Linked DNA regions of Homo sapiens. The protein of the gene in region 1 purifies or fractionates together with the protein of each later gene. This does not show direct contact. Each region holds a gene or a part of one and is shown on either strand. Other genes may lie near its edges.

Evidence for each region.
Region 2: the proteins of SNX11 (region 1) and RMC1 purify together in Homo sapiens (affinity purification with mass spectrometry, with the first as the bait; one large-scale study listed by BioGRID). This does not show direct contact.

The regions. Positions count from the first base shown.
Region 1 is NC_000017.11:48,106,477-48,110,565, reverse strand, and holds the start of SNX11 (sorting nexin-11), read right to left. Parts: upstream 2,801-4,089; 5' UTR 2,728-2,800; intron 1-2,727. UniProt on the Homo sapiens protein: Phosphoinositide-binding protein involved in protein sorting and membrane trafficking in endosomes. Regulates the levels of TRPV3 by promoting its trafficking from the cell membrane to lysosome for degradation.
Region 2 is NC_000018.10:23,527,253-23,530,174, reverse strand, and holds part of RMC1 (regulator of MON1-CCZ1 complex), read right to left. Parts: intron 2,381-2,922; coding exon 2,274-2,380; intron 1,969-2,273; exon of another isoform or gene 997-1,968; coding exon 877-996; exon of another isoform or gene 838-876; coding exon of another isoform or gene 821-837; exon of another isoform or gene 541-820; coding exon 463-540; coding exon of another isoform or gene 448-462; intron 148-447; coding exon 43-147; intron 1-42. UniProt on the Homo sapiens protein: Component of the CCZ1-MON1 RAB7A guanine exchange factor (GEF). Acts as a positive regulator of CCZ1-MON1A/B function necessary for endosomal/autophagic flux and efficient RAB7A localization.

The DNA.
Region 1 (4,089 bases):
ACACTGTGTAATGAGTTTCCTTCTATTTTATGTTTTGCTAACACAAGGCTAACATTTCAAAAGAAGGGGAACTCATTTACACCATGAAATTAGCAAAGCAAACCACTTTTTCAATTCTCTCCAATATACCAGAAGTATCTCCACAGACAAACACTGCATGCAGAAACGAAGCTGCATGGTCCATGACAAAATTGGGCTACACAATATTGAGCAAACCTAAGGTTTTGTGATTTCAGTACCATCTTAAATGGTATTCTTGCTGACAATCTGATTTTTATCTGATGCAGCCACCACCTCCAAGGGGTCCTGAACTGAAAGGTGGGAAATTCCAATTCCATAACAACCCATATATAACATTCCAGATATCAGTCAAATGTCTGAGACCAAAAAGAGCAGACCTATTTGCTGTGAACAATGAACCTCCTTAAGTTTTTTTTTTCTCTTCTCTTTGCAGGCATTGGATAAACTGCCAGCACAGGAGCAGAGAGTTAAATATTCTGAAGTGTCTTTAAACAAAACTAACAACGGGAAAGACGATGACAAGGAAATCACAGTCATCCACTCAGTGGAGCTCATACATCTTTTGTGCCTTGAAAAAGGTTTGTCAAATTCAGGACCATAATTTAGGAACGAAATGATCATCATACCCTTGGTCTCAGGAAGTTTGTATAGGGCCCTGCACTACCTTCATGAAGAAATTCTTCTTTCCTTTGGGGCCAATACCACTCAGAAACAAATAGCTATGAACTGGCTTTTTAAAAACCTCCAGACACCAGCCTGGCCAACGTAATGAAACTCCGTCTCTACTAAAAATAAAAAAAATTAGCGGGCGTGGTGGCAGGCGCCTGTAATCCCACCTACTTGGGAGACTGAAGCAGGAGAATCACTTGAACCCGGGAGGCGGAGGTTGCAGTGAGCCGAGATCGCGCCACTGCACTCCAGCCCAGGCGACAGTGCAAGACTCCGTTGTCAAAAAAAAAAACACAAAAAACAAAAAACCTCCAGATGGGCCGGGTGCGGTGGCTCACGTCTGTAATCCCAGCACTTTGGGAGGCCGAGGCGGGCGAAATACGAGGTCAAGAGATTGAGACCATCCTGGCCAACATGGTGAAACCCCTTCTTTACTAAAAATACAAAAATTAGCTGGGCATGGTGGCGCGTGCCTGTAGTCCCAGCTACTCGGGAGACTGAGGCAGGAGAATCAGTTGAACCCAGGAGGTGGAGGTTGCAGTGAGCCGAGATCGCACCACTGCACTCCATCCTGGCAACAGAGTGAGACTCCGTCTCAAAAAAAAAAAAAGAAAGTTTCAGTTGTAACTGTCCTTAAAAACACTGGGCTGGCCCAGTGGCTCACGCCTGTAATCCAACACTTTGGGAAGCTGAGGCGGGCAGAACACTTGAGGCCAGGAGTTCAAGAACAGCCTGGCCAACAAGGCAAAACTTCGTCTCTACTAAAAATACAAAAATTAGCTGGGCATGGTGGCACAGGCCTGTACTCCCAGCTACTCGGGAGACTGAGGCATGAGAATTGCTGGAACCCAGGAGGCGGAGTCTGCAATGAGCCAAGATCACACCACTGCACTCCAGCCTGGGCGACAGAGCAAGACCCTGTCTCAAAAAACAAACAAATAAACACTGGAACAAATACAAAAACCTAGACACCAAGTAGTAATTTCTAGCAACCACTCTTCTCCATTAGATTCCTCCCCACAGATACCACTCCTCAAAAGAAAAAGCTCAGTTCTGCCTCTGGAGAAGCAGCAGGAAGTTCCTAACTTTAGTTCTCTGATCTGGGAGATGGATCTGTACTTCATCCAAATAAGGCTAGAGTCAGTGACCATAGCTAGTTACATAACTTAGTGTTAACTACATTTTCTGGGCCCTTTCAACCACATCTGAAGTTTCCTTTACTTTCTTCACCTGTACCAGCACCAGTAGCTCTGGTGAGTACCCGATTGTTTGCTGTTTACAAAGTAGATTCATCGTAAAGCTTTCTAATATAGTAACAATGCAAGGCTTTAGTCTCACCATTTATTTTCTCTCCCATTTAAACAACTTCAAGAGACAGGTTAAGAAACAAATCAGGTGATAAAAGTAGATGGAACTACTGAGACTACCGTCCCTTCTTACTCAATCTTGAGCCTTTAGTGCCAGATGGCAGAAAGCAATTCAAAAAGCTCTCGCTCCAATTATAAATATCACAGGTACTAAACAGAGGAAGCTCCCAGTTCTGACCAAGCTCTGTGTGATCTCAACCAAGCAGTTATGCTCCATCTTTTTGTCCATCTCTAATCGTACGCCTTTCACTTGGAAGGTAAGTAACAAAGGCGACCACAATCTACCGCCAAGTCTCCCGTGTCCACGTAAAATACTCGCCATTGCCCCCAGTCTTAGCCATTTAAGTAAATGTCCCCAGAGTCTTTTACTACGGCCACTCTTTCTCCATTCTCAACAAACTAGGACCGAAAGGTCCACATGGTCCTTCTTTCTTTCCGATTAAGCTTGGGGGGTAGGAAGTGAAAGATACACTTTGAAGGTAAACTGAAAAGCCGGGTTTCCTTTCTTGGATCCCGAGCAAGCCCTTGCCTTAATCCCGGGTGGTAAGAGAGTCCCTCCCTAGGATGTAAAGCGATGCCACCATCCCGAGTGCCACTACTGACGCTCAAGCCCACGCCCCCTCACAGGAGAGCAGCACCCACTCCCCAGGCCCCGCCCACGCCCTCTCACCTGAGAACAGCACCAGCTCCCCACAGCGACACCGCCCGCGCCCCACCATATAGCCAGATCACGGCTTCTCCTTCCGGGTGAGTCGCCGGTGCCCCGGTGCACGACGGGAGACGCCCCAATCCCGGGTGCCCGGGACGCCCCGCCCCTACAGGCCCGGGCTCTGAGTGGGATTCCCGCTTCCGAATAGCGCGGCTCCGCTGGCCAAGGCCCCGGACTGGAGTCGGGATCCCCCCTCCACTCACTTGGGACGCCGGAGAGTGCACGCAGGTGCCGGGTGAGGGACGGCGAATGGATATCCAATCCGGGGCCGCGTTCCGCCCACTGTCAGGGGAAGCCAATCAGCGGCCAGGGGGCGTCAGCGACGGGCAGCCAGTGGGTCCCGGGAGCAGAGGGGTGTAAGGGGGTTGTTACTCTTGTTCTCGCTATGCGAGGGATAGTCTGCAGTGTGGGAGGTTCGGGGCTTTAGGAAGCCCACATCCCTGGATCCTCACTAAGTCCCGAGAGCCACCATTTGAACCTCGTAGTTTGCTGTTCCCCAGCGGAGCTATCAAGGGGACTCCGATTCAGATTCGTAAAGCCACGGACCGATTGTCAGAGTGAAAGTCAGACTCGAGAGGGTCCGGCGACTCAGATTGCTCACACCGAAACAAACTCGAAGCAATATCATGCAGCTAGGGAGCAAGAGAAAGCCGTTCAATGTGTTGGTGGTCTTTTAACAACTTATTTAAAGATAATTTCAGCAAGCCTAGCGCGGTGGCTCACGCCTGTAATCCCAATACTATTAGGGAGGCCGAGGCGGGAGGATCGCTTGAGGCCAGGCTTGAGACACGCCCTACCAACTTAGGGAGACCCTCGCCTCTGCAAAATATTTTAAAAATTAGCCGGGCATGGTGACACGCGCCTGTAGTCCCAGCTACTCGGGAGGCTGAGACAGGAGGATGGCTTGAACCCAGGGGTTCGAGGCTGCAGTGAGCCCTGATCACTGCAGAGCAAGACCCTGTCTGAAAAAAAGAGAGAGAGCTAAAAGGAAGAAAAGAGAGGAAAGAAAAGAAAGGGGCCGGGCACAGTGCCTCACGCCTGTACTTCCACCACTTTGGGAGGCGGAGGCGGGTGGATTACCTGAGGTCAGGAGTTCGAGACCAGCCTGGCCAACATGGTGAAACCCCGTCTCCACTAAAACTACAAAAATTAGCTGGGCGTGGTCATGGGCACCTGTAATCCCAGCTATTCAGGAGACTGACACAGGGGGATTGCTTGAACCCAGGAATCGGAGGTTGCAGTGAGACAAGATCGCGCCATTACACTCCAGCCTGGGAGACTCCATTGTAAAAAATAAATAAATAAAAAGGAAGATAGCTGGGT
Region 2 (2,922 bases), on another chromosome or scaffold:
CATTTTTAACCACAATGGAAGTAAAAATCTGGCAATGCATACCAAAGGTTTGGAGTCGCTGAGGACGTGGTACTGCAGGAACTGATGCAGCATATAAAAGAGGTTGTGCTGGACAAGGGTTTTGATAACAAGTTCATGTAGGTAATGCTGAGGACAAAAGTAAAAAGTGAAAGAACACTTCCAAATCATTCAGCTACAACAGACTAGAGGCTCCCCAAGGACTGGCTATTCTAACCAACACAGTAAAAGTCTGTCATTACAAGAAGTGGTTTCGTCATGCAGGTAAAGACCCCAACTTGACCTTACACTTCCCATTCCAACTAATAATGTCAGGAGTCACTCAGCATTCTGAGTCAGGGAGGCAGACCTGTCTTAGCATATGAGTCATCTTCTAAGACAGTGACTGTGTTTTTTTTTTAAATTCCTTCTGTTTTAACTTGGGCCCAGATGATTTGAAGGTACCTGTACTGCAATCTGAAACTGGTTAAGAGAACGAATGTATTCCATCAGCACGGCTATCACAAATTTATGAGGCATCTCCTAGGGAGAAAAAAATGTGGTCTTACAAATACCAACGAGGTGCAAAAGAGGCTGCATATAACTCTCTATCCAACCCCCACCTTGTTTCCATCTTAAAATGGCCCAGTGTTCATCTTTCACTGGTTTTGCACACATCGCTCCAGAACCACCCGTCAACAATTATGCTTTAGGCCTCAGCATTAGAAGCCAAACTACCAGCTCTAGGGCCTCACCCAAGGAAACTCCAGTGATTCTAATCACTTCAAGTGACTCTAATCACATGAAGTCTCCTCGTTTTCAGCAACTTCCTTGTTTTGAGCATTCTCAGTCCAGAAGAGGCGGAAAGCTGCAGCCCACCTTCTTTTCCACAAAGGCTGACAGGACATGGGTGTACACATCTGACTGGTCCAGCACCGCCTGGGTCCGCACCGGCCTCTTGAGGAGCGGGCTGCTTCGGCTCTGCCCTGCTTCCACCGCCTGAAAGAAAAAAACCACAAACTATGATCTTCGGCATCTTAGAGGAAGGGTGCTGTTTACAGTTCATCCACAAGGACTGAATTCTTCGATGTGGACCCAGGATATGAGCGGAAAACACTTTCTCTACTTAGATACAACTTTTTCCTGTGCGCATGCCTGTAATCCCAGCTACTCAGGAGGCTGAGGCAGGAGAATCCCTTGAACCCAGGAGGCAGAGGTTGCGGTGAGCCAAGATCTCACCATTGCACTCCAGCCTGGGCAATAAGAACAAAACTCCGTCTCAAAAAAAAAAAAGCAGTTCAGATCCGTGCAGATTATGCAATAGCTGTGGGGTGTAGCCTGAGAACTTGCATTTCCAAGAAACTCCAGATGCTGCTCATGTGGCTGGTCAGTGGCCCACACTGCTGAGTCATGACGGTTTATGGAGCCCAGCAGACCGTGTGGGACGGCACAGAAACTGCCATTTGGGATCAGACCTACTGATTCCCACAGCCCAGAACACCCACAGCAATAGAGTCCAAAAGGACTCAGCCATCCCTCACGTCTGGCAGCGTAGGAATGGACACTGTCCCAGCAACTGGCCCTCTTCAGTGCCTGTCTCAGACCTCTTACCCTTCCATGAACAGCTAAAGGGGAGTGGAGTTCTGGGGCTTTTGTTGGTTTAAAACCATTTTCAGCCTAGGACTAATCAGATCCTGGAATTGAAATAATTCATTCTCCTTGTCCTAAACTTTTCTTCTGGCTTCAGAAGATATGATGTACAAGTAATACAGCGGGAATTGGTGGCGATAAGCCATGGTTATTACCTTGACTACAAACACGCCTGCTAAGTGCTAACACTGAATCGTCACTATCTCAACAGGATTCTTTCCCAAAAGGGAAGAAAGGTGTGGCAAATATAAATATTTCTAATTTAATTTTCTAAGTCCTCACTCTGGCATAACAGAAAAATATACAAAATATTGCAAAGCAGAGACTGATTTTTCTCATCTATAACAGTAGACCAAGGATCTACAGGCAAGATCAAACACAGATGGGAAAAACAAAAACAGTGAAGGTATGAAGTGAGATGCAGCCGCCAGCTCGTGGGATGCAGGGACCCTGAATTTACTACTCCTCCACTATCCCCCACTACTGCCACCTTGCCCTATGGCAGGCGGCAAATCTCAGCGACCTTATTCTAATATATAGGAAACAATTTTGCATCATAATTACTTAGAAAATACCCGGGAGGGGGTGGGGGAGGAGGACCCTTTGTCATACTCCATGTAACTCACCATCGCATAACTCTGCTCGGCATCCAGGTACTTTTTATACTCATGGTTGAGTTTATCAAAAACAGTGGCTATCACGGGCAGCGATGCTCTGTCTGACTCACTTAACACTGGAAAGGCACAATGTTCACACACGGATCAAACCAACTTCATGTCAGCTTCAGAATTTCCACACGTTGCTATGATAAAAACTAATCTCAAAAGGTTACCAATGCAAAAGTACCTTTAAAGGACACTCTACTTTAAAGACCTGACAGCTAGATGTCATTCGCAACCCCTTTCTGGTTACGGTTAAAAAAAAAAAAAAAAAAAAAAGCTATAGCAGGCCAGGCTCAGTGGCACATGCCTATAATCCCAGCACTTTGGGTAGGCCGAGGCAGAAGGATCACTTAACGCTGGGAGTTTGAGACCAGCCTGGGCAACAAGGCAAGACCCCATCTATACCAAAACAAAAACAAACACCAACAGCACATATTGGTAGGGGATTATTATTATTATTTTTTTTTGGATACAGGGTCTTGCTCTGTCGCCCAGGCTGGAGGTACACTGACACAAACGGCTCGCTGCAGCCTCGTCCTCCCGGGCTCAAGGAATCCTCCCTCGGCAGCCTCTGGAGTAGCTGGGGCCACAGGTGTATACCACCAAACTCAGC